Linked DNA regions of Homo sapiens: all the other regions are linked to region 3. Evidence: fine-mapped expression QTL. A gene starts in region 3. Each other region holds a variant in brackets. All regions are shown on one strand. Distances are between the middles of the regions. Region 1 overlaps NECTIN2 (nectin cell adhesion molecule 2). Region 2 overlaps CLPTM1 (CLPTM1 regulator of GABA type A receptor forward trafficking). Region 3 holds the start of CLPTM1 (CLPTM1 regulator of GABA type A receptor forward trafficking).

Region 1 (5,000 bases), 86 kb before region 3:
AACCCTGTCTCTACGAAAAATAAAAAATTAGCTGGGTGTGGTGGCCCGTGCCTATAATCCCAGATACTCAGGAGGCTGAGTCAGGAGAATCGCTTGAACCCAGGAGGCAGAGGTTGCAGTGAGCCGAGATTGTGCCACCACTGCACTCTAGTCTGGGTGACAGAGCAAGACTCGGTCTAAAAAAAAAAAAAGTATTGAGGTTGGGTGTGGTGGCTCACGACTATAATCCAAGCACTTTGGGAGGCTGAGGCAGGTAGATTGCTTGAGCCCATGGTGGTGCGCAGATGTGGTCCCAGCTACTTGGGAGGCTGAGGTGGGAGGATCGCTTGAGACCAGGAATTTGAGGCTGCGGTGAGCTGTGATCATGCCACTACACTCTAGCCTGGGTGACAGAGTGAGGCCCTATCTCTAATAAATAAATAAAAGAGTAAGTCAGGCAGTTAAAGGGGCCATGGAAGTTGGAGAGGGCCAAGTTGCAATTCTAGCTAAGGAGGTCTGGGGATATTTAGGCAGAAACTAGGAGAGGAGGAGCCCTCTGGGTATCTAAGGGAAGAGCGTTCCAGGCAGACGGAATGGCAAGTACAAAGGCCCTGAGACAGGAATACCTGGAGTATTTGAGGGCCAGGAAGGAAGTCAGGGTGGCTGGAGACATATGAGTGGGGGAAAGTAGGAAGCAATAAAGTCAAGGAGAGGATGGGGACAGATTGGCAAAAGCCTTGTGGACTATAAGAAGCCTTTGGCTTTTGCCCAGGGAGGATAAGAGCTGTAGTAGGTTCTTAGCAGCAGACAGGTTTGATCTGGCTTGGGTTCTCACCAGCTCCTCCTGGCTGTGTTGGGAGGGGAAAGAATGGGAGCTGAGAAACCACAGGGTAAGGCAACTACAAAGTCCGGGTGGGGCCGGGTGCTGTGGCTCACGCCCATAACCCCAGCACTCAGGGAGGCCGAGGTGGGAGGATCCCTTGAGCCTAGGAATTTGAGACCATCCTAGGCAACATAGTAAGACTCTTGTCTCAATGACAAAAAAAATTTTTTTTTTTTTTGAGACAGAGTTTTGCTCTTGTTACCCAGGCTGTAGTGGAGTGGCGCGATCTCGGCTCACTGCAACCTCCGCCTCCCAGGTTCAACCAATTCTCCTGCCTCAGCCTCCCAAGTAGCTGGGATTACAGGCTCCCACCACCACACCTAGCTAAATTTTTTTGTATTTTTAGTAGAGACGGGGTTGCACCATGTTGGCCAGGCTGGTCTTGAACTCCCGACCTCAGGTGATCCGTCCACCTGGGCCTCTCAAAGTGCTGGGATTATAGGCATGAGCCACTGAGCCTGGCCAGGAAAGAAAAAAAAATTGTTTTAATTAACCAGGCTCAGTGACTTACCTGTAATTTCAGCTACTCGAGAGACTGAGGTGGGAGGATCACCTGAGCCCAGGAGGTTGAGGCTGCAGTGAGCTGTGATTGTGCTACTGCACTCCATCCTGGACAAGAGAGCGAGACCCTGTCTTAAAACAAGTCCAGTCCGGGCAGGAAGTAAAACGGCTTAGAAGTAGGGGACATAGTGGCCTCATTGAGATAGGATGTGCAGGGAAGGCGTCTTAGTCAAGTCCTGGAGTCTGAGAAGGAGCTACCTTTGGGCATAGCAGAGGGGCACGGGCACAGAAACCTGGGAGGTGGGCATGAGATGGGAGCTGGGCGCGTTCCAGGAATGGAAAGGGGGCTGGTGAGGATAGGCAAGGGCTTGGGTGACCCTCAGCGGGGCCACATTACACGGGCTTCACAGGTGGAGGCGAGGAGGCTGGACTATGCCCTCAGCATGGTTAAGAGCCATGGGAGGTGTCAAGCCACAGGAGAGATCTGGACAAACGTTTGAGGTTGCAAAAAATGACCGGCAGCAGTATGAGGAGTGATTGGAGGAGTGGACGGAGGTAGAAGGGAGCTGGGACGAGAGGGGAGAAGAGGCATTGCTGGGAAGACGGATGAGGCAGTGGGGGGCAGAGGGAAGCGGGCGGCATATAGTGGTGTTTTTAGAAGATAGTAGGTGCTGGGCTTGCCCATGGATTGAGGGGGAAGCAGGATCAGAGAGGAGTCCCAGGCCTGGTGCGGTGGCTCACGCCTGTAATCCCAGCACTTTAGGAGGCCAAGGTGGGCAGATCGCTTTGAGGTCAGGAGTTTCAGACCACTCTGGGCAACATGGTGAGGCCCCATCTCTACAAGAAAAAAAAAAATTAGCTGGGCATGGTAGCACACACCTGTAGTCCCAGCTACCCAAGAGGCTGAGGTGGGAGGATCGCTTGGGCCTGGGAAGCAGAGATTGCAAGTGAGCCAAGATTGCACCACTGCACTCCAGCACGAGACCCTGTCTCAAAAAAAAAAAAAAAAAAATAGGACTCCCAGCGGGAAGGTGACTGATACTTGGCAAAAATAGAGAAGGCAGGGAAGATTTTTTTTGAAGGATGCTTTTTTTTCTTTTCCTTTTTCTTTTTTTTTTTTTTTCTTTTTTTGAGACAAAGTCTCACTACATTGTCCAGGCTAGACTCGAACTCCTGGGCTCAGGGGATCCTCCTACCTCCGCCTCCTGCATAGCTGGGATTACAGGCATGAGTCACCACATCCAGCTACGAATGCTCTTTCTTTAAATCTTGAGGCTGGGCGTGGTGGCTCACTCCTGTAATCCCAGCACTTTGGGAGGCCGAGGCGGGCGGATCACGAGGTCAGGAAATCGAGACCATCCTGGCTAACACGGTGAAACCCCATCTCTACTAAAAATACAAGAAATTAGCCAGGCGTGGTGGCGGGTGCCTTAGTCCCAGCTACTCGGGAGATTGAGGCAGGAGAATGGCTTGAACCCGGGAGGCGGAGCTTGCAGTGAGCCGAGATCGCGCCACTATACTCCAGCCTGGGCGACAGAGTGAGACTCTGTCTGGAAAAAAAAAAAAATATGTTGGAAGTCCCCTGGGAGCCCACCTTCCCTAGGCAACTTCCCAGAAGCCACGTCACTCTGGATGCCTTTTCTTCCCCCTTCTCAGCCCAGAGCGTCTGAGAAGGTCACCCTGTGCTATCCTTGAGTAAACACTTCCCTTTCC[A/G]GTAACACATGAAACCACAGCCGTTTTCCATAATACAAAGGACAGCTCTTCTCCTCCCCACCCTCACAAACGCCTCTCTTCTTGTGCAATCATTTGTTCTCATCCAGAGATAACTTCAGGGCTGGGCACGGTGGCTCACACCTGTAATCCCAGCACTTTGGGAGGCTGAGAGGCAACAAGAGCAAAACTCTGTCTCAAAATAAATAAATAAATAATGAGACTCAGAAAATATGATTAAGGGCCAGGCGCAGTGGCTCACGCCTGTAATCCCAGCACTTTGGGAGGCCGAGGCAGGCGGATCACGAGGTCAGGAGATTGAGACCATCCTGGCTAACACGGTGAAACCCTGTCTCTACTAAAAATACAAAAAAATTAGCCGGGCGTGGTGGCGGGTGCCTGTAGTCCCAGCTACTTGGGAGGCTGAGGCAGGAGAATGGCATGAACCCAGGAGGCGGAGCTTGCAGTGAGCCGAGATCGCATCACTGCACTCCAGCCTGGGCGACAGAGCGAGACTCCATCTCAAAAAAAAAAAAAAAAAGAAAAGAAAATATGATTAAGTGTAGGGTTTAATCAAGCCCAAAGCTTGAGGATGACCACCTGGGAGCATAGATTGAAGTTGCCCTGAATATACACTTCAAGCAGGGGCCAAGGCAAGCAGCTCTTGCAAGTGAGCTTTTGTTTGTTTGTTTGTTTCTTGGAGAGAGGGTCTCCAAAACTACAAATAAAAATTAGCTAGGAATGGTGGCGCACACCTGTAATCCCAGCTACTCAGGAGGCTAAGGCAGGCGAATTGCTGAAACCAGCAAGGGCAGGTTGCAGTAAGCTGAGATTGCACCACTGCACTGCATCCTGGGTGACAGCAAGACTCTGTCTCAAATTAATAAAAAAAAAAGAGAGAGAGAGAGATAACCTCAAGAGCTTCCGTATACACACTGGTGCAGAAGTAAGGAACAAAACAGCCAAAGCCTCTGTCTTCATGATGCGTGAGCCACCAAGGAATAGTTGGCCAGAGTCGGCGGTCAGGAAAGTGCCCTTGACGAAGTGGGGCTTGGAGTGGGGTCTGGAGAAGGAGGCCAAAGCAATCCAGGCACAAAATCACCAACCAAAACCCCAAAGTGGGTGGAGGCAGAGACTGAGGAGGGCGTGGATGGGGAGCATGTGGAGTGGCCAGGGGAGGTGGCCATGGGGAAGTGGTGGGCTCGGGCCCTGAGTCACTATTCTAACAGCTTGGAGGGCGGCCAGGAGGATGTGGGGAGGCTTGTTGGATGCTCCACGATGGTCAGGGGAGAAGGCGGTGGGAAGGGAGAGCTGGGAAGAAGAGGAGAGTCAGACCGTGTTGAGAAGTTCAGAGGTGGATACCCAGGTCCAGAAAGCAACAGAAGATGTGAGTCTGGGTGGGGGACACACATCATAAGCATGAGCTGCTATTCTTCCTGGAGTTTTGTTTTTGTGATTTTTTTCCATGTTTTCCAAGAGAATGAGGTGGAAAGGGTATAAAAAAAAGAAACGGCTTTGAGATTTTCTGCCTTTATCACACTTCCAGTCATTCAATCATCTAATGGTGATTACAGGAAAAGGAACAGGGGGCCTTTCCAGCTGGACCTTTGAACCACAGTACTCAGTTACTCGCTCGGCCTTGATTTGCTTTTTTTTTTTCCTTTTTTTTTTTTTTCTTTTGGAGACAGAGTCTCACTGTCACCCAGGCTGGAGTGCAGTGGCACGATCTCGGCTCACTACAACCTCTGCCTCCCAGGTTCAAGCAATTCTCTTACCTCAGCCTCCCGAGTACCTGGGATTACAGGCACCTGCCACCACGCCCAGCTAATTTTTGCATTTTTAGTAGAGATGGGGTTTCACCACGTTGGCCACGCTAGTCTAGAACTCCTGACCTCAGGTGATCTGCCCACCTGGGCCTCCCAAAGTG
Region 2 (11,180 bases), 21 kb after region 3:
TTCTTTTGCCTCCGCCTACCAAGTAGCTGGGATTACAGGCGCCCGCCACCACGCCCGGCTAATTTTTGTATTTTTAGTAGAGATGGGGTTTCACCATGTTGGCCAGGTTGGTCTCGAACTCCTGACCTCAAGTGTTGGCTTCCCAAAGTGCTGGGATTATAGGTGTAAGCCACCACGCCCAGCCTCGTTTTGGTTTTGGTATCTGTTGTTGCTGCTGATTCTCGCTCATAATGTCGTTTCCTTTTGTGCCTGGCTTATCTCTGTCTGTGTCCTAGTCATTATACTTGAAAAGTTATTTGTAGGAATTTCAGGGCTAGGATGAGCATATTTTCCTACAGAGAGGATTGCCTTTGCTTCTGCCTGGGGGCATTACCAAGTCCTAGGTTTCCTTGCACCAGGTTCAGGGCTTGAGCTGCCCTTCGTGACTCCTTATCCCACGAGTGGCCTTGCATACTTCGCCCTGCATACCTGTTGTGCAACTCCTGGGAATGGGTAGGCCACCTGGTTCCTTCCTTCTCAGGGGTGGAGGCTTGCACCTTGTGGGGTCTTAGTTTCCTATAGGGTAGGTCTCTGGTTACCTCATATGTTGTATGTGCCCTGGGCTAGCATTTTTTTTTTTTTTTTTGAGACAGGGTCTCACTCTGTTGCCCAGGCTGGAGTGCAGTGGCATGATCGTGGTTCACTGCAGCCTCGACCTCCTGGGCTCAGGTGATTCTCCCACCTCAGCCTCCTGAGTAGCTGGGAATATAGGCATGGTGCGTGCTGCCATGCCTGGCTAATTTTTGTATTTTTTGTAGAAACTGTGTGTTGCCCAGGCTGGTCTCAAACTCCTGGGCTCAAGCAATCCACCTACCTCAGCCTCCCAGCGTGCTGGGGTTACAGGTGTGAGCCACCGCGCCCAGCCTAGGCCAGCATTTTTGTCACCCACCAAAACACCTAGCAGATGTCCTCGGACACATGAAGAAGCTTATAGGGCTCCTTTACTTATTCTTTTTTTTTTTTTCCCCTAGACCTGCAAATCCAAGATCCTTTACTTCTTTTTTTTTTTTTCCTTGAGATGGACTTTTTGCTCTTGTTGCCCAGGCTGGAGTGCCATGGCACGATCTCGGTTCACTGCAACCTCCTTCTCCTGGGTTCAAGCGATTCTCCTGCCCCAGCTTCCCGAATAGCTGGGATTACAGGCATGCACCACCACTCCTGGCTAATTTTTGTATTTTTAGTAGAGATGGGGTTTCACCATGTTGGCCAGGCTGGTCTTGAACTCCTGACCTCAGGTGATCCACCCACCTCGGCCTCCCAAAGTGCTGGGATTACAGGCTTGAGCCACCGCGCCCGGCCGATCCTTTACTACTTTAGGATTCCCACTTTCCCTTCAGTTTTTGCCTGAAGGTTTGGTAACCTACAGTCGTGTCCATTCTTCAGAGCTGTCTATTTATATATATTCATATGTAAACTTGATAAAAATTACATGCATGAGAACAAATACGAGAATACGTGAGCAGCATATATTCTCATTCTATCAATATGTATAATTACAAATATAAAATATATTGATATTTTCTTAGTGTATTAATTTTATCAAGCTTTTCCAATTTTTTCCAGTGAGAGGGTTGGTCTGAATAATTAAGCCCACTGTTACTAAAATTGGAACTAACGTATCACTTACTATCTGCTTCTCCAAAAATTCTCCAAAAGTTCAGAAATGTTGCTCTTTCTAAGCTTCTGTGCCTTCGGTTCTTTTCCTTTTCTTTTTTAAAAAATTTAATTAATTAATTGATTAATTTTTTTGGGACAAGCTCTCTATCTCCCAGGCTGGAGTGCAGTGGCGCAATCACGTCTCACTGCAGCCTTGACCGTCAGGGCTCAAGTGACTCTCTCACCTCAGTCCCCCAAGTAGCTGGGACTACAGGCATGGGCCACCATGCCCAGCTAATTTTTATATTTTTTGTAGAGACGGGATTTCATCATGTTGCCCAGGCTGGTCTCAAACTTTTGAGCTCAAGCAATCCGCCTGCCTCAGCTTCCCAAAGTGCTGGGATTACAAGCATGAGCTGCTACACCTGACCCAATTATACTTTTTTTTTTTTTTTTTTTTTTGAGATGGAGTCTCACTCTGTTGCAAGGCTGGAGGGCAGTGGCGCAATCTCGGCTCACTGCAACCTACGCCTCCCGGGTTCAAGTGATTCTCCTGCCTCAGCCTCCCAAGTAGATGGGACTAGAGGCACGCACCACCAGGCCCAGTTAATTTTTGTATTTTTAGTAGAGACAGGGTTTCACCATGTTGGCCACGATGATCTCGATTTCTTGACCTCGTGATTTGCCCACTTCAGCCTCCCAAAGTTACAGGCATGAGCCACTGTGCCTGGCCTCTATACTTCTTAAGTTATTTTAAAATGTGTAATTAAATTACTATTGACTAGAGTTGCCGTGTTTTGCTACCAAATACTAGATCTCATTCATTCTTTTTTTTTTTGAGATGGAGTCTCGCTCTGTTGCCCAGGCTGGAGTGCAGTGGCGCGATCTTGGCTCACTGCAACCTCTGCCTCCTGGGTTCACACCATTCTCCTGCCTCAGCCTCCGGAGTAGCTGGGACTACAGGCGCCCGCCACCATGCCCAGCTAATTTTTTTGTATTTTTTAGTAGAGACAGGGTTTCACCATGTTAGCCAGGATGGTCTCAATCTCCTGACCTCGTGATCCGCCCGCCTTGGCCTCCCAAAGTGCTGGGATTACAGGCATGAGCCGCCGCGCCCGTCCTCGTTCATTCTATTTTTTGTAGCCATTAACCATCCCCGGTTCTGTGCTTTTGAAGCGCTAGGATTCCAGATTCTTTCTTTTAAAAATTTTATGTTTATTATTTTTTCTTTATTTCTTTTTTCTTTTAATTCATCCATCTGCACACTGAAGGGGTTCCAGATTCTTAGTCTCCTCTCGGGGGATCCCAGGGGGCTGGATGGCAGGTTTCCCAGTCTGAGTCAAGAGTCAGCCCCTGCAGCCCTGTGGTCACCAGGAGCTCCTGCAGGATTTAGAGTCAAGGGTCTGCATGCAGACCAGGGCAGTGCCAGCTACCCCCACACACTGGCAAACGGTGGCATCTGGGCTCCCTCCCCAGATGTGGTCTTTAGGGACATCTTATCTCCTTGCCAGCCCTGTGACTACCTTCTCAGGGCCTCCCTGACTTGGTCACTAGCCCCAGGTCAGGCGCCAGCATGTGCTAAGTCAGAAGGAAGTCAGGCGGGTCTATGGCGGAGAGCCAAGGCTTGGGGACTCACCACCTTGCTGCTTCTCTCCTCAGGATCTTCATCATCTGGGCCATCAGCAGTTGGTTCCGCCGAGGGCCGGCCCCTCAGGACCAGGCGGGCCCCGGAGGAGCTCCACGCGTCGCCAGCCGCAACCTGTTCCCCAAAGACACTTTAATGGTAACTGCCGGGTGGTAGGGCAGACTTGGGAGGTGATGGGGTGTGGAGGGGTGGAATGTGGAGGAGTGATGTCAGCAGTCGGGACAGACCAGGTCCTTGCTCACTGGCAGGTCTAGGAAAACAGGTCCAGGGTTGAGGAACTCTGGGCCCATCCCCAACACGTGAGACCTCTGTCACCTGGGTCCATCCCCAGCACATAAAACCTGTGTCACCCAAAAGAAAAAGCAAATTCATTTGGTTAAAATAGGTTAAATCAGGGTCTTTGGATGTTATATTTCAAAAGTATGTTCAGCCTTTCAGGGTTGCAGAGGGAGATGTGCAAGGGAGAGAGTGTGAGAGGTGGGGAGGGCAGGGAGCCAGCAGAGGCTGACAGGAGGTGGGCCCGGAAGGAGAGGAGACCTGCACTTCCACAGTGGGCTTGGGCACAGGCAGGGCAGGGCTTCAGGAGCCTCCAGAGCAAAAGCATTTAGATCTGTCAGTCTAGGCTTTTCTGAGCAAACATGGCCATTGGGGCTTGAGAAAGGAGGAAGTTCTTGTTGGGTCACAGTGGGTTTTTTTTTTTTTTTTTTTTGAGATGGAGTCTCACTCTGTCGCCCAGGCTAGAGTGCAGTGGCATAATCTTAGCTCACTGCAACCTCTGCCTCCCGGGCTCCAGTGATCCTCCTGCCTCAGCCTCACGACTAGCTGGGATTACAGGCATGTGCCACCACGTCCAGCTAATTTTTTGTATTTTTAGTAGAGATGGGGTTTTACCTTTTTGGTACGCTGGTCTCGAACTCCTGACCTCAAGTGGTCTACCCGCCTTGGCCTCCCAACGTGCTGGGATCACAGGCATGAGCCACCGTGCCCGGTGGCTCACAGTGCTTTTGTAGCTCTGGACTGCTTCGTCCATAAGCCTGCAGAGCTCTGACCAGGAAGGCCCAGCAGCCATGAGGGCAGGAGATCATTCAGGGAGCTCCTGCCCCTTCCTACCCCTAAATTCTAATTGGCAGGCTGGCCAGTCTCCAAGTGTTCTTTGTTCGTTGACTTCACAGGCTCAGACCAGGACAAACATGGTGGTATGAGAAAAGAGAAAATATGTCCTCTCTGCTGCTCTTCCTCTCTCCTCTCCCCTGTCCTCCATAATTACTGTTCCCCTGAGTGTGCTGACCGCTGCCATAGCTCTTTAGCCAGCCTGCAGAGGCTCTGAAGAGCAGGCCTGAGCTCTGTTCCCTTCCTGTCCCAACAGAACCTGCATGTGTACATCTCAGAGCACGAGCACTTTACAGACTTCAACGCCACGTCGGCACTCTTCTGGGAACAGCACGATCTTGTGTATGGCGACTGGACTAGCGGCGAGAACTCAGACGGCTGCTACGAGCACTTTGCTGAGCTCGATATCCCACAGGTGGGGGCAGCTCTCGGTTTCTGGCCCCATGGCTGCTTGACTGGCACTGAAGGACCTTTTCCTCCAGTCCGCTCCTTGCTGAGAGCATGTGGAGTTTGGGCTCCAGGCTTGGCCCTTCCCTGGGCTCACATGGTCTGTGACCACAAGCCAGTCCCTGAGATCTCTGGGCTTCACTTTCCCCTACCTGAAAAAGGTAGATAGGGGTGGAATTGGCCTGGGACCCTCCCAGCTACCTCTAAGGTTGTGCAGTCCTCCACTTTAAACTGGTGAAAGATTAGTAATTGTCCTTGGGGATGTTTGCCTATCACCAGTTTATCAGGCAGCCCCGTTTCAAAATAATATTAGTTAATGTTGATTGAGCTAAGTGCAGGGTACTAAGCTAGGCTGACTCATGGAAATTTCCCGGCAACCCTGTGAAGCAGGAACTGTTATTATTCTCATTTAACATGTGAGGAAACTGAGAGAGAAGGAAAGTGATTTACCCAAGGCCACATCGCATGAGAGATTCAGACTCAGGCTCTACGGCTGTGGACTCTCGCAGCCCTAGGCTCAAATCCAACCTCCTCCAGGAAGCCCTCCCTGACTCACAGAGCACTCAGGCTTGGTTAAGCACCCTCTCTGGGTTCTCACACCTGCTGGGCTTCCCCATCCCAGCCCATTCTGGGGCCTCATTGGGACTCCTGTATGGGACTGTGAGCCTTGTGATAATAAGGCTGGGGCTGCCTAGATCACTTCCATGTCCCCAGCACTGCCCAACGTGGGGCTGGGTGCAGAATCAGCAAGTATTGAACAAGTAAAAGGGACATCTCTCTTTGGGGCCTTCTTCGGCTGAGTCCAAGACAGCTGCCCTCATTCCTTTCTCCCCAGCAGGCCTTCTCAGCTTTGGGGTGGAGGGCACATTTCTGTTCTATTTCTGTCTGGGTAGCTAGAAGCAGAATGTGGACACAGTCATTCTGGTTTTTTTTTTTGTTTTTTGTTTTTTTTTGAGACAGCGTCTCGCTCTGTCACCCAGTCTGGAGGGCAGTGGCGCAACCTTGGCTCACTGCAACTTCACCTCCCAGGTTCAAGCGATTCTCATGTGCCAGCCTCCTGAGTAGCTGGGACTAAGGCACACATGATCACACCCAGCTAATTTTTTTATTTTTTAGTAGAGACAAGGTTTCACTATGTTGGCCAGGTTGGCCTTGAACTCCTGACCTCAAGTGATCCACCTACCTTGGTCTCCCAAAGTGCTGGGATTACAGGCGTGAGACACCGCGTCCAGCCATCATTCTTTTCTTTTTGAGATGGGGTCTTGCTCTGTTGCCTAGGCTGAAGTGCAGTGGTGCAATTACAGCTCACTGCAGCCTCAACCTCCTGGGCTCAAGCAATCTTTTCACCTCAGCCTCCCAAGTAGCTGGGACAACAGGCATGCACCACCATGCCCAGCTAATTTTTTGTAGAGATGGGGTCTCAACATGTTTCCCAGGCTGGTCTCAAACTCCTCTGCTCAAGCGATCCTCTCACCTCAGCCTCTCAAAGTGCTGGAATTACAGGCATGAACCACCCCACCTGGCTGGACTTTCTGACCTGCACTGAGAGGTGACTCCCACAGAGACCTCAAGCCCAGCCCCCAGGCCTTGCCACGAGATCCAAGGAAGGACCAGGGCCTGGCAGGCCCAGCAGGGGGATCTGCTTCCAAGGGCTTGGATCTAAGTCGAAGCTTCAGGGTGGGGTCCAAGTGGACTTAAAAGGCAGGAGAGCTGGGCACAGTGGCATGTGCCTGTAGGCACAGCTACTCAGGAGGCTGAGGTGGGAGAATGGCCAGAGCCCAGGAGTTTAAGACTGTAGTGTGCCATGATCGCAACTGCAAATAGCCAGTGCACTCCAGCCTGGGCAACACAGGAAGACCCCATCTCTAAAAAAGATAGGGAGAGTGAGGAGAACACAATGTGGCCAACTGAATTCGAGCTCTGCACAAGGATCAGAGAGGTTCAGTGCTCGCCTTTGTCTCCACCCAGTGCCCCTG[G/A]ACAACTTGCCTCCCTTCTTGAAGCCTCAGTTTCCTCATCTGGATCAAGTGAGAATAGTCCCCCTTCCCTGGGAGGCAAGGAGACTTGATGAGATAATGAGGAAGACTTGGGCAGAGAGGGGCCAGCTGGAGGTAGCAGGGAGTAGCACCCAGGAGCCCACAGACTGGGTTTCCATCTGCGTACTTGCCACACACTATGTGACCCCTTGGCATGAGCCCCGTTTGCCTCATCTGCAAAATGGGGTGGTAACATGACCCATTGCATAAGGTTGACATGTTATATGTGTGTTAACTCGTTAGATTAGGAAGCTGTTGTCTGAAGTGCCCAGGGCAGGGTCTGGCCCATAGTAGGAGCTCCATGTCGGTCAGCTGCTTCTTCCTGTTGAGTGAGCTTAACGAGAGCTCGTTGACTGAGCTGTGTGCCAGTGCTCCAGGTAGTCCCTGCAGTGGTGCCCTCGGGTCAGTGCTGTGGGAACTTCGCATCCTCTAGGTGGGGCCCTGAGGCTCAGAGAGAAGCTGAGCTCACACGGCCATGGCAGGTAGAGCGGGCGTCTGAGTCTGTCTGACTCCAGCATTTACCTCTCTGCCACCCAGCTACATGCCCCACCCTGAGTACTCAGTAAATGGCCAGAGAGTTGAGGGGGAGGAAACTGCTGCAGATGGGTGCCAGGCAGGGCTTTAACGTTTCCCTCACCCCAGTTGCCCAGCCTGCCCACCTGACCTTCCGTCTTTTGCAGAGCGTCCAGCAGAACGGCTCCATCTACATCCACGTTTACTTCACCAAGAGTGGCTTCCACCCAGACCCCCGGCAGAAGGCCCTGTACCGCCGGCTTGCCACAGTCCACATGTCCCGGAGTAAGTCGCTCCCCTGCAGCCAGGACCCACTGTCCAGGAGGCCAGCATCCTGGGAGCCCCCAGGCTAATGTGGCGGACAAATCCCAAGTCCAGGAGGGCAGGCAGGAAGCCTGTGCTCAAAGAGGGTGGGATTGGCAGGGCAGGCTCAAGCCCCACCCAGCCTGAAAGAGCCCTGTGGACACTAAGCAGGGATACCCACGGAGGAAGGGAGACCCACGGAGGCTCAGGGACCAGAGAGAAATTGGCCAGAAAAAGCAGCTGGAGACAGGGACTCTTGGAGAGGAGGAGACGTCCTTCACCAAGGGGGAAGGGCCAGGGTTGACTTTTGCACAGTAGGGGCCTGATAGAAGTAGACACTCAAAAATAATTTGTGGGCTGGGTGCAGTGGTTCATGCCTGTAATCCTAGCACTTTGGGAGACAAGGTGGGCAGATTGCTTGAGCCCAGGAGTTTGAGACCAGCCTGGGAAACATGACAAAACCCTGTCTCTACCAAAAAAGACACAAAAACTAGCTGGGCGTGTGCCTGTAGTCCCAGCTGCTCAGGAGGCTGAGGTGGGAGGATCGCTTGAGCCCAGGAGGTGGAGGTTGCAGTGAGCCAGAATCACACCACTGCACTCCAGCCTGGGTGACAGACCGAGAACCTGTCTCAAAAAGATAGATAGAGGCCGGGCACAGTGGCTCACGCCTGTAATCCCAGGACTTTGGGAGGCCGAGGCGGGTGAATCACAAGGTCAAGAGATAGAGACCATCCTGGCCAACACGGTGAAACCCCGTCTCTACTAAAAATACAAAAATTAGCTGGGTGTAGTAGCATGCTCCTGTAGTCCCAGCTACTTGGGAGGCTGAGGCAGGAGAATCGCTTGAATCCAGGAGGCGGAGGTTGCATTGAGCTGAGATCACGCCATTGCACTCCAGCCTGGTGACACAGCAAGACTCCGTCTCCGTCTCAAAAAAAAAAAAAATAGATAAAATTCAAAGAACAGTGTGGGCAACATAATGAGACTTCGTTGCTACAAAAATTAATAGCCAGGTATGGTGGTGAGCACCTGTGGTTCCAGCTACATGGGAGGCTGAGGTGGGAGGATCGCTTGAACCTGGGAGGTCAAGGATGCAGTGAGCTGTGATTGCACTACAGCTTTCCAGCCTGGGCGACAGAGCAAGTCCACGTCTCTGAAAAAACAATAGTAATAAAAAATAAGACTACCACTTCTACTCCCATGATAACTCATTAATCCATTAAACCACTAATCCATGAATGGGTTAATCAGTTCCTGAGGGGAGGGTCCTCATGACCCAGTCACCTCTTAAAAGCCTCATCTCTCAGTACTGGCACATTGGGGATTAAGTTTCACTGGGAGTGGGGAGTACTAGAGTACATCAGTAGTCCCAGCTACTTGGGAGGCTGAGGTGGGAGAATCAGCATGAGTTTTGGCCAGGACAAACATTCAAACCATAGCATTGTCCGTCCTCTTGTTTTCGAGAAGTTAATAATTGTTGTCATCTTTCTGCTTGCCTGGCTCTTTTTTTTTTTTTTTTTGAGACAGGGTCTCACTATGTCGCCCAGGCTGGAGTGCAGTGGACTATCTCAGCTCACCACAATTTCCACCTCCCAAGTTCAAGCGATTCTCCCACCTTAGCCTCCAAAATAGCTGGGACTACAGGCACACGCCACTACGCCCGGCTAGTTTTTGTATTTTTAGTAGAGACGGGGTTTCGCCATGTTGGCCAGGCTGGTCTCAAACTCCTGACCTCAAGTGATCGTCTGCCTCGGCCTCCCAAAGTGCTGGGATTACAGGTGTGAGCTGCCACACCCAGCCTTGCTTGGTTCTCTGTGAGCTTTTTCCCTGAGTCCTCTGTCTCCTGATGGGCAGCCGTAGAAATCTCTTGCTGTACCTGTTTGAGCGGAGCTGGAGAATGGCTTCCTCAGAAAGCCCCCCATTCTTCTAACGGGAGTTCTGTGTACTCCACCTAGCTTTCACTTTATTGAGGACTATTCCAGACATTCCCTGTGGATTTGGTTAAGATCCATCTGGCTGGTTTTGGGTGGCGCAGCAACAGACAGAATTCTATTTGTATGAGTTAGGTCTTACCTACTTCTTTTAGTACAAAAATATCCTAAAGGATGGTAATTTTTTTTTATCACCTATACTGGATGAAATGAAAAGTTGACTCTATGTGGGTCCCTAGAAATGACTTGGAAAGGTCTTCTGGAGTTACTTGAGCCCCTTTCTGAGTGAGTGTGTCTGAAGAATGTGCTGCGTTGGTATGTCCCACCCGGCTGACGTCCATGTGGTGAGATCTTTGGAGAACCAGGCAGAAGTGGCTTGAGGGGGTGTGACCTACAGGGTTGGTCTCACAGATGTTTCCCTGCAGGGGGATACGTCAGGGGTCTGGGCTAAAATGCCCGATGTTTCAGAGGTCGCTCTGAAGGTGACCCAGGTGGGTGGCTCTTCACCCTATTCTTGTACCCCGTTTGACGATCACCTAATCATCCCGTTGACCCAAATCGATGCCAGTATTTTCTGCAGTTTTGTCTTTGGTGAGTGTGATCCATGTCACTGTGTGGTGAGGTTTATTCACAGTCAGTCTGGTCTGTAAAATAGAACCTGCAGACAGTGAACCTGAAAAGCATACTAGGATCATCCAGGCCTCCCTCCCCAGCCTTGGAGCTGGGACCCTCAAAGCAGGGACATAGAAGGACTTGGAGTGAGCCACCCACAAACTCCAGGGTGAAGGAGAGTGTGAGTTCAGAAAAGCCCCCTTTTGGCTGGTTGTGGTGGCTCATGCCTGGAAACCCAGCACTTTGGGAAGCCAAGGCAAGCAGATCACTTGAGGTCAGGACTTCGAGACCAGCCTGGCCAACATGGTGAAACCCTGTCTCTACTAAAAATACAAAACTTAGCTGGGCATGGTGGCACATGCCTGTAATCCCAGTTACTCGGGAAGCTGAGGTGGGAGAATCTTTTGGACCCCGGAGGCGGAGATTGCAGTGAGCCGAGATCGTGCCACTGTACTCTAGCCTGGGCGACAGAGCAAGACTCCATCTCAAAAAAAAAAAAAAAAAAAGAAAAGAAAAGCCCCTTTTATCCCCAAGAGGCCAATAATCAGTATTCTAGAGCAGCTCCGTCCCATGGAGATAGGATGTGAGCCAGAGAAGGCATTAAAATTTTTCCAATAGAAAAATACTAAAGAGTAAAAAGGTAAAGAGAGGCCAGGCACGGTGGCTCATGCCTGTAGTCCCAGCACTTTGGGAGGCCAAAGTCAGAGGATCGCTTGAGCCCAGGAGTTTGAGGCCAGCCCTGGCAACATAGGGAGACCTCATCTCTACAAAAAAAAATTTTATTTTATTTTATTTATTTTATTTCATTTTATTTATTTATTATTATTTTTTTTTGAGATGAAGTCTTGCTCTGTTGCCCAGGCTGGAGTGCAGTGGTGCAGTCTCGGCTCACTGCAAGCTCTGCCTCCCGGGTTCACGCCATTCTCCTGCCTCAGCCTCCTGAGTAGCTGG
Region 3 (8,300 bases):
AGTTGTTAACGGTGAATGGTGTCCAGGTTTTTGGCGTCCTGAACAAAGAACTGGACAAAACGCACAAACAAAGCAAGGAAGGAATGAAGGGATTTATTGAAAACGAACATACACTAAACAGTGTGGGAGCGGGCCCAAGCATATGGGTTCAAAAGCCCTGTTACAGAATTTTTGGGAGTTTAAATTCCCCCTAGAGGATTCCCCTTCCACTGGTTACTTCTGGTACACCCTATGTAAATGGAGAGGATGAAGAAAAGTTACAAAGTCATTTATGGCCTACCGGAGAGGATGTTTCCTGTTATAGCTGAAGTGAATTGGCCTTATGTTCCCTGCCTCCCTATTTTCCTGCCTTACAGTTGCTGGACTGACACATTTTTTATTTTATTTATTTTGTTTTGAGATAAGGTCTTGCTCTGTCGCCCAGGCTGAAGTGCAGTGGTGAGATCTTGGCTTACTGTAGCCTTGACCTTTTGGGCTCAAGAGATCCTCCCATCTCAGCCTCCCAAGTAGTTGGGACTAGGGATGCCCACTGCCACACCTGGCTAATTTTTTGTATTTTTAGTAGAGACGGGGTTTCGTCAAGTTGCCTAGGCTAGTCTCCAATTCCTGGGCTCAAGCGATCTGCCCACCTTGCCCTTCCAAAGTGTTGGGATTACGGGTGTGAACCACCGCACCAGGCCTGGGCTGACACTTTAAACGTGCCATTGCAATCAGTGTATAATGGTCCCGTGGCAGAGGGAGAATGGTGCCCAAGTCAGTACTTCTTGGCTGGGACCCAAGAAGACAAACCTCTAGGGCCGGCGTGGTGGCTCACGCCTGTAATCCCAGCACTTTGGTTGGCTGAGGTGGGCAGATCATCTGAGGTCAGGAGTTCAAGACCAGCCTGGCCAACATGGTGAAACCTTGTCTCTAATAAAAACACAAAAATTAGCTAGGGGTGGCCCGCGCCTGTAATCCCAGTTACCTGGAGGCTGAGGCAGGAGAATTGCTTGTACCCTGGAGGCGGAGATAGTGCCACTGCACTCCAGCCTGGGCAGCAGAGTGAGACTCCGTCTCTAAAAAAAAAAAAGAAAAACTTATTAAAAAAAAATTGCAAGCAAAAAGCACAGAAGGCAGAAGGTGCAAATAAGCAGAGGCTCCATGGTCTGAAGGAGGCCAGTGCTGGGACCATGAATGAAGGGGGCTGGGGGCCAAGATTCCTGTATCCTGAGGGAGTCCAGGGTGGTACTGCTCCCCAAGTCCCATGGGTGGGGCTATTGGTCTCTGGGGATCCACTGCTTGTATTTCTCCTAATCTGCTTGGCATTAACCTCCTGCCAGGCTTTCAACACCCTTGGGGCAGTTTTCCCAGGTCCTGAGGCTGGGCAGCTGAGTCCAGTAAAAAACAGGGGCCCTGGAGAGGGACTGTGGGCAATGCCCCCGAGTCCCCGGGGCCTGGGAAGAACAGAGGCTGCCAAGTGCAGGGGGTGGTGGGGAGGGGAAGACCCTGGAGTAACAATCCCTGCTGTGTCCACTTGGTTCCCACGGACTCAAGCCAAGCCAAAGCACTGCCCGGACCAGTTCGGCTTCCAACCAATCCTGGTGCTGGCCTCAGACTCCTCCTTTCTTTCTCAGAACCCCATTCCCCTCAGGGCCCCCAGAGTCCAGGCCCCTAGATTCTTCTTCCCCTAGAACTCAGGAGTCTGGGACCCCCCAGTCCCTTCTCCTCAGGACCTAGAAGGTTGGATCCCCAGCCCCCTTTCTCCCTTAGAACCTGAAATCACAGCCCTTGATCAGTATTTTGCGCCCCCTAGTGGAGAGAAGAGTGGGTCTGTCCTGTGACTTACATACAGCAGGAATGGCAGAATTTTTTACTTATTATGATTTTTAATTTCTTTAGAGACAGGGTCTCACTCTGTCACCCAGGCTGGAGTGCAGTAATGTGATCACAGCTAATTGCAACCTCGAACGAACTCCTGGGCTCCGGCATCCCTCCCACCTCAGCCTCAGAGTAGCTGGACCACAGGTGGATGCCACCACACCACCTAATTTTGTTAATTTTTAGTAGAGCTAGGATCTCGCTATGTCACCAAGGCTGGTCTTAAACTCCTAGGCTCAAGCGATCCTTCTGCCTCAGCCTCCCAGAGTGCTAGGATTACAGGCATGAGCCACGAAGCCTGGACGGAATGGCAGAATTTATTTGGTCACTCCACAGAGCATAGGAAGGCTCTGCAGGGAACCTGCCTCCACAGGAGCCCTGTCCAAGGTCACACTTCTCATGAGAAGCTTAGACCTCATCATGCTCCAACACATTGGCCCTTGCAGTGTATGAGACTTGGAGAGCAGATTGCAGCAGTTTGTATTTATAGCTGAGAGCGCAGTTGGGGTTGCAGTGAGGCTGGAGAAAGTTTCAAAGCCCCTCACTTGCCTGGGCTTTCCATGGTCCTCTACCTAAATTTGTACAAGTCATTTTGTACTTTTTTTTTTTCAAGACAGAGTCTCCCTTTTCTTGCCCAGGCTGGAGTGCGATGGCATGATCTCGGCTCACCACAACCTCCGCTTCCCAGGTTCAAGCGATTCTCCTGCCTTGGCCTCCCAAGTAGCTGGGATTACAGGCATGTACCACCATGCCCAGCTAATTTTGTACTTTTAGTAGAGATGGGGTTTCTCCATTTTGGTCAGGCTGGTCTCGAACTCCCGACCTCAGGTGATCCACCAGCCTCTGCCTCCCAAAGTGCTGGGATTACAGTGTGAGCCACCACACCCAGCCAATTTTGTACTTTTTAAAAGAGGCCAGGCCAGGCGCGGTGGCTCATGCCTGTACTCCCAGCACTTTGGGAGACAGAGGCAGGCGGATCACGAGGTCAGGAGATCAAGACCATCCTGGCTAACACGGTGAAACCCCGTCTCTACTAAAAATACAAAAAATTAGCTGGGCGTGGTGGTGGGCGCCTGTAGTCCCAGCTACTCCGGAGGCTGAGACAGGAGAATGGTGTGAACCCAGGAGGCGGAGCTTGCATTGAGCTGAGATCATGCCACTGCACTCCAGCCTGGGTGACAGAGCAAGACTCCATCTCAAAAAAAAAAAAAAAAAGAGGCCCACAAAACACATAAGCTTCAGACCCCACAAAGTCTCTCCTCAATCCCTGTCTTAGTCTATTCACTTCATCCCTGGACTTAAAAGACTGGGCCTACACATTCAAAGAATCGTTATTAACACCATTATTGTCTGTAACAGTGAGGATGAGGCACTGAGTTTTCTTTTTCTTTTCTTTCTTCTTTTTTGGAGGTGGAGTCTTGCTCTGTTGCCCAGGCCGGAATTCAGTGGCATGATCTTGGCTCACTGCAACCTCTGCCTCCCGGGTTCAAGCAATTCTCCTGCCTCAGCCTCCCGAGTAGCTGGAGTTACAGACGTCCGCCACCATGCCCGGCTAATTTTTGTATTTTTAGTAGAGACGGGGTTTCACAATGTTGGCCAGGCTGGTCTTGAACTCCCGACCTCAGGTGATCCGCCTGCCTCGGCCTCCCAAAGTGCTGGGATTACAGGCGTGAGCCACCGCGCCTGGCTGAGGAGCGAAGTTTTCTAAGGTTCCTTCTTGTCCTGTGTTAGCCCTCAGAGAGGTAAGTCACTCACCTTCTGCACCTAGAGAGCCTCATCCCCAGGGCAATCATCCCCAGGGCAGTGCTGGAGATACAGCAGTGACCACAACAGTCCCAGGTCAGCCTGCCCAGTTGGGGAGACACACCCATCCCTGACAGTGATGACACAAAGTGAGCAGGGATGGGGTGGAGGAGCTGAGGGGGCAAGGGAGGATAGGAAAAGGGCTCAGAGAGAGTTTCCTAGAGCGAGAGCTACTGTTACAGGGCTGAGACCTAGAGGAAAGTGGAGGAAACCGATAATAAAATGATAATTATATATTCAGAATATCCCAATGCAAAGCTTACTCTTTTTCCAGGTAATATATAAGGTTCATAATCACAGCGCTCCAAATATTGACCACTTAAGCATGAGGCCCAGGGCCTGATGTTTTCCATTCGCCATCTAACTACGTCTTCCCAATAACACAGCGGGGCAAAACGGGAAGACGAAGAACGAGTACGATTATATCCCTGGTTTATAAAAGGGGAGAAACTGAGGCTCAAACATAGATGTCACTTGTCACCAGCCTGGCCAACACGGTGAAACTCCGTCTCTACTTACAAAAAAAAAAAAAAAATGGGAGGCTGACGCAGGAGAATTGCTTGAATCCGGGAGGCAGAGGTTGCAGTGAGCCGAGATCGCGCCACTGCACTCCAGCCTGGGTGACAGAGCGAGACTCCGTCTCAAAAAAAAAAAAAAAATTAGCCAGGAGTGGTGGCGTGCTCCTGTAATCCCAGCTACTCGGGAGGCCGAGGATGCAGTGAGCCGAGGTTGCAGTGAGCCGAGATCGCGCCATTGCACTCCAGCCTGGGGGAGAGTGAGGCTCCGTCTAAAAAAGAAAAAAAAAGAGAGAGAGAGACGTCACTTGTCCAGGATATCTTATCCAGTCAGTAGCACCACAAGGGTTAGAACCCTGGCCAGACATCCACCCAATTTCACGGGTGAACAGTTAACAGCCTCTGAGAGTCTTGTCCTCTCTGGGCCTCCGTAACACCCTCTCCAAACTAAGGGTCTCTCAGCAGATGGCCGGGTTTAGAGCTGTACGAAGACACACAGCTAATGAAAAATTGTGGAATTCTCAGAGCCCGTGAAGCCTAGCCCACGGATGCGAGGTTTGGACCACTGAGGGAACGCGCATGCGTGCTAGGCAGGGCAGTCCGAAGGCTTGGGGGTGTATCATAGGGTCTCATCGGAGGTTTGTTGGCCGTAAGACCCCTGGAATTGGAACTCTAAAAACACAGAAAGGATATGAGCTCAGGAGACTTGAACGAAAGAGTTGTCTTAGGAAGAGGGGTCAGAAGACAAGGGTGCTGGGCAAAAGGCTAGTTCTTCGAATCAGAATACGGTGGCCAGAAAGGTTCCTCTGACGAAAGAGGGGCGTGGTTCGAAGCCGTACAGTGGCCGGTAAAGCTCAAGAAACATGGAACGAAAAGGACGCGAAGAATCGGCAGGGAGAAGCGGACAGGATGTCCCGAAAGGCTCATATAACCGAAAAGGCGGGTTAATGTGAAGGGACGGAAGGGACAGAACTTGCGGGAGGCACATGCTGGCCGAGAAAGTCCTGGAGTTCGGAGCATACAGTGTTTTTATTAGGTGGAAACAAACGGGCTGGGAGAAAGACGAGTACGGTGGCCAGGTTGGTCCTTCCATAGCCGGAAGTGGCCTTCCTGAGAGGCGTGGCTGCGGCACTCTTGCCGGATAGGGTGGCCCGGCGGGGCTAGGAAAGCGTGAAATCTCGCGCGATTGCGCTGCGAAGTCGGGGACGGGGCGGGGCTGGCGGCGGGGGCGGGGACCCGGAGCGGGAAGATGGCGGCGGCGCAGGAGGCGGACGGGGCCCGCAGCGCCGTGGTGGCGGCCGGGGGAGGCAGCTCCGGTCAGGTACGGAGGCCGAGAGGGGACTGAGGGGGTTCTTCCCCAGCCGGGGGGCCTCCCACGGGGCGTGTCCTACCTCTTGTCACGGAATCCCGTGCACTGGGGGCTCCTTGGCCAGAGGGACCTTGAATACCCGGCCCAGGCAGGGCCGGACCGCCCGGGAGGCCGGACGGTGCCGGGAACAGGGCCCTGTTGCGGGTCGGTTCCCCTGCACGCTCGAGCCGGGCGGCCACCAGGCTCATTGCTCGATCCGGGGAGACAGTGGCTCGGAGGGGCGCAGGCTTGTACCTTGGCGCGCTGGGTTCTCAACTCCGCGATTCCATGCTCTGAGGCCGTTCCTAGAGTGGTCTGGCGTTCAGGTCTCGTTGTAGTGTTTGAGGTGTGCGCAGTGATTAATTGGGAGTTTTCTAGCTGTGGGGAAGTCAGTATTAGCAGGGCACGGCCGACAGACCCATTTTACAGACGGGAATTCAAGGAACAGTGAGACTAAGGCGCTTCTAGAAGGTCATCCTGGTTAGGTTTGTAACTTTATGTAGAAGTTACAAGACACTGCTGACACAGGGACTGGTATGGTTGTGGTTTTAATGTAAAATAGTTCTATGGGTTAATTAGTCCTGGTGCGGATGACTTCTGCCCCACTGCTGTCTTAACACACTGCAGAGCATACCATTTCAGGCAGCTACCGTTCAGGCATTTGGGGAATAGATGGAGAGACATGAAGGTGCTGTCGACCCACCCACTGGGATGTCACTGACATGTGGGAGGCAGCTCAGGGGAAAGGAGTGCGGGTTGAGAGGGGAGAATGAAGCTGACTCTCTGTGTGACCTTGGGCAAGTTCCTTTCCCTCTTTAGGCCTTTATCTCTCCCGTGTTAAATGCAGAGGTTGGACAGGAGGGCCAGCCATATCCCTGCTGTCAGGGGACGAAGAGAGGAGACTGACATGTAAACAGTTGTAATCCTGAATGATTAGGTTGGTGACAAAAGTCTGTGTCAGGGACTGGGGGAGCCCAGAGAAAGAGCAAGTGGTATCACTTGGGTAGGACACATGGATGAAATTTGTGTGATAGAGCCCACTGTATCTGCTCTGAATCTTTTCAGCATTCTCAGCCAGGGCCTGGCTTCAGGGACAGCTTAGGAAATGTTTGTTGAGTTAGTGCTGGAATGAAGGCTCAGTTCCTGTCTTCAAGGGTTTCCCAGTCTTGCTGAAAGGAGGTCGTTTCCCCTCTGGGTTTCTGTTGATTATTGGGTTGATGGTGGCTTGAGAGACCAGGGCCCAGGTTGTTCTCATTGCCCTGAGCTTCCAGATGGCACTCTGATCTTCTCTTGTACCAACTCTGCTTAAAAACAATCAAGAGTTACCCCTTTGCCTTTAGGACAAAGTACAAATTCTTTAATAAATCACAGTCTTGCACGATCCGACACTTTTCTTCAGACTAGACTAGGATTTCTCGAGCTCGGCACTATCAACATTTTGAATTGGATAATGCTTTGTTTGGGGGGCTGCCCTGTGCATTTTAGGATGTTTAGCAGCATCCGTGGCCTCTACGCACTAGATGTCAGTAGGATCCACGCCCCTCCCCAGTTGTGACAACCATATATGTCTCCAGACATTGCCAAATGTTCCAAGAGCAGGGGGGCAAAGCCATCCCTGCGTGAGAACAACTGCGCTAAAGGGGATCCGCTGCTCTGAACCTATTTTATTTCTAAACCTCTTTTATTGCCTCTCAGTCTCTTTCCTCATAGTCTATGCACAGGTCTCTCCCCTCTTTAGCTAGTTGATGTGTATTAGTCCTACAGATTTCAGATGTCCCTTCCTGCAGAAAGCCCTCTTTGACTGTCTGGGCTCCGCTGTCCCAGCCCTGCCCTACTGGGTTTCACTGTCTGGGGACTGGGAACCCCAGGAGGGCAGAGCCAGGACTGCCTTGATCACCACTGCTTCCTTAGCACCACTCAGCTCAGCGCCAGGCACAGAGGAGGTGCTCAGTGTTTGTGGAATGAGCGGATCTTGAAACAGAGGCTGGGCTGAGGTGGAATTCCCTGATGCCGTGGTGGATCCAGGTAATCAGTGAAGACATGCCGCAAAACCTAGCTTCCTCCTGCTCTTGCCTAGCCCTGGTGGTCTCAGCTACTTCTTGGACCCTTTAGCAGATGTTGCTGGGGATTGTGTGTGTGCGTGGACGTGCAGATCCGAGAGCAGGAACTGTGTCTTAGTCACTGATGTGTCCACAGCCACTGCCACCCTTCTCCCATGCCCAGGGCCTAGTGCACAGCAGGCACACCCTCTGCACAGTCTGCTGCTTTAGCTAGCCTGCTCCTGTAGCCAGGAACTCGGACACAGAACCCACAGCTTTGCCATTCCTTCCTTCAGCGAATGCGAATTGAGTCTACTCCATGCTAGGCCTTTGCTGATGCTGGAGATACAGCTGTGAATAAAATAGGTGCTGCCCTCTTGAAGGCCCTTACACTTATGTTCTAGTTGGAGCTGAATTTATAGGGGAAGCACAGACAGGGACACACAGTGAACAAGATAAATAAGAAAAACAGCAGTTCAGATGGCTCTGCGTGCCATGGACAGAAATAAAGCTGGGATGGGGATAGGAAGTGAGGGGTGGGTAGAAGAGTTGCAATTAAATAGGGTAGTCTAGAAGGCCTCTCTGAGGAGGTGACGCTTGAACAAAGACCTGAAGGAAGTGAGAGAGGGAGTCCCAAAGATACACGAGGGAAAAGCTTTTCAGGCAAAGGAGCAGCCAGTGCGAAGGCCCTAAAGTGGGAGGTGCCTGGTGTGATGAAGGAAGGGCGAGGAGGCTGGA

What was found. PIP is the estimated chance that this variant, and not a neighbour inherited with it, causes the effect.
Region 1: its variant is the best candidate, but not a certain one, in a credible set for the expression of CLPTM1 in whole blood (TOPMed, PIP 0.66).
Region 2: its variant is the best candidate, but not a certain one, in a credible set for the expression of CLPTM1 in whole blood (TOPMed, PIP 0.85).

What each region holds. Positions count from the first base shown.
Region 1 is chr19:44,865,996-44,870,995 of GRCh38, forward strand. All of the region lies in intron 2 of NECTIN2 (nectin cell adhesion molecule 2), which reads left to right. Among named protein-coding and RNA genes, the nearest start is that of NECTIN2, 22 kb to the left of the region's middle. The variant A/G (reference allele first, on the strand shown) is at 3,077.
Region 2 is chr19:44,969,793-44,980,972 of GRCh38, forward strand. It overlaps CLPTM1 (CLPTM1 regulator of GABA type A receptor forward trafficking), which reads left to right. Exons shown (of 14, transcript NM_001294.4): 3 at 3,295-3,418; 4 at 4,647-4,805; 5 at 7,551-7,668. Among named protein-coding and RNA genes, the nearest start is that of CLPTM1, 20 kb to the left of the region's middle. The variant G/A (reference allele first, on the strand shown) is at 6,814.
Region 3 is chr19:44,949,972-44,958,271 of GRCh38, forward strand. CLPTM1 (CLPTM1 regulator of GABA type A receptor forward trafficking) reads left to right here and starts at 5,409. Exons shown (of 14, transcript NM_001294.4): 1 at 5,409-5,496. The coding sequence starts at 5,425. RefSeq lists a silencer at 5,332-5,661.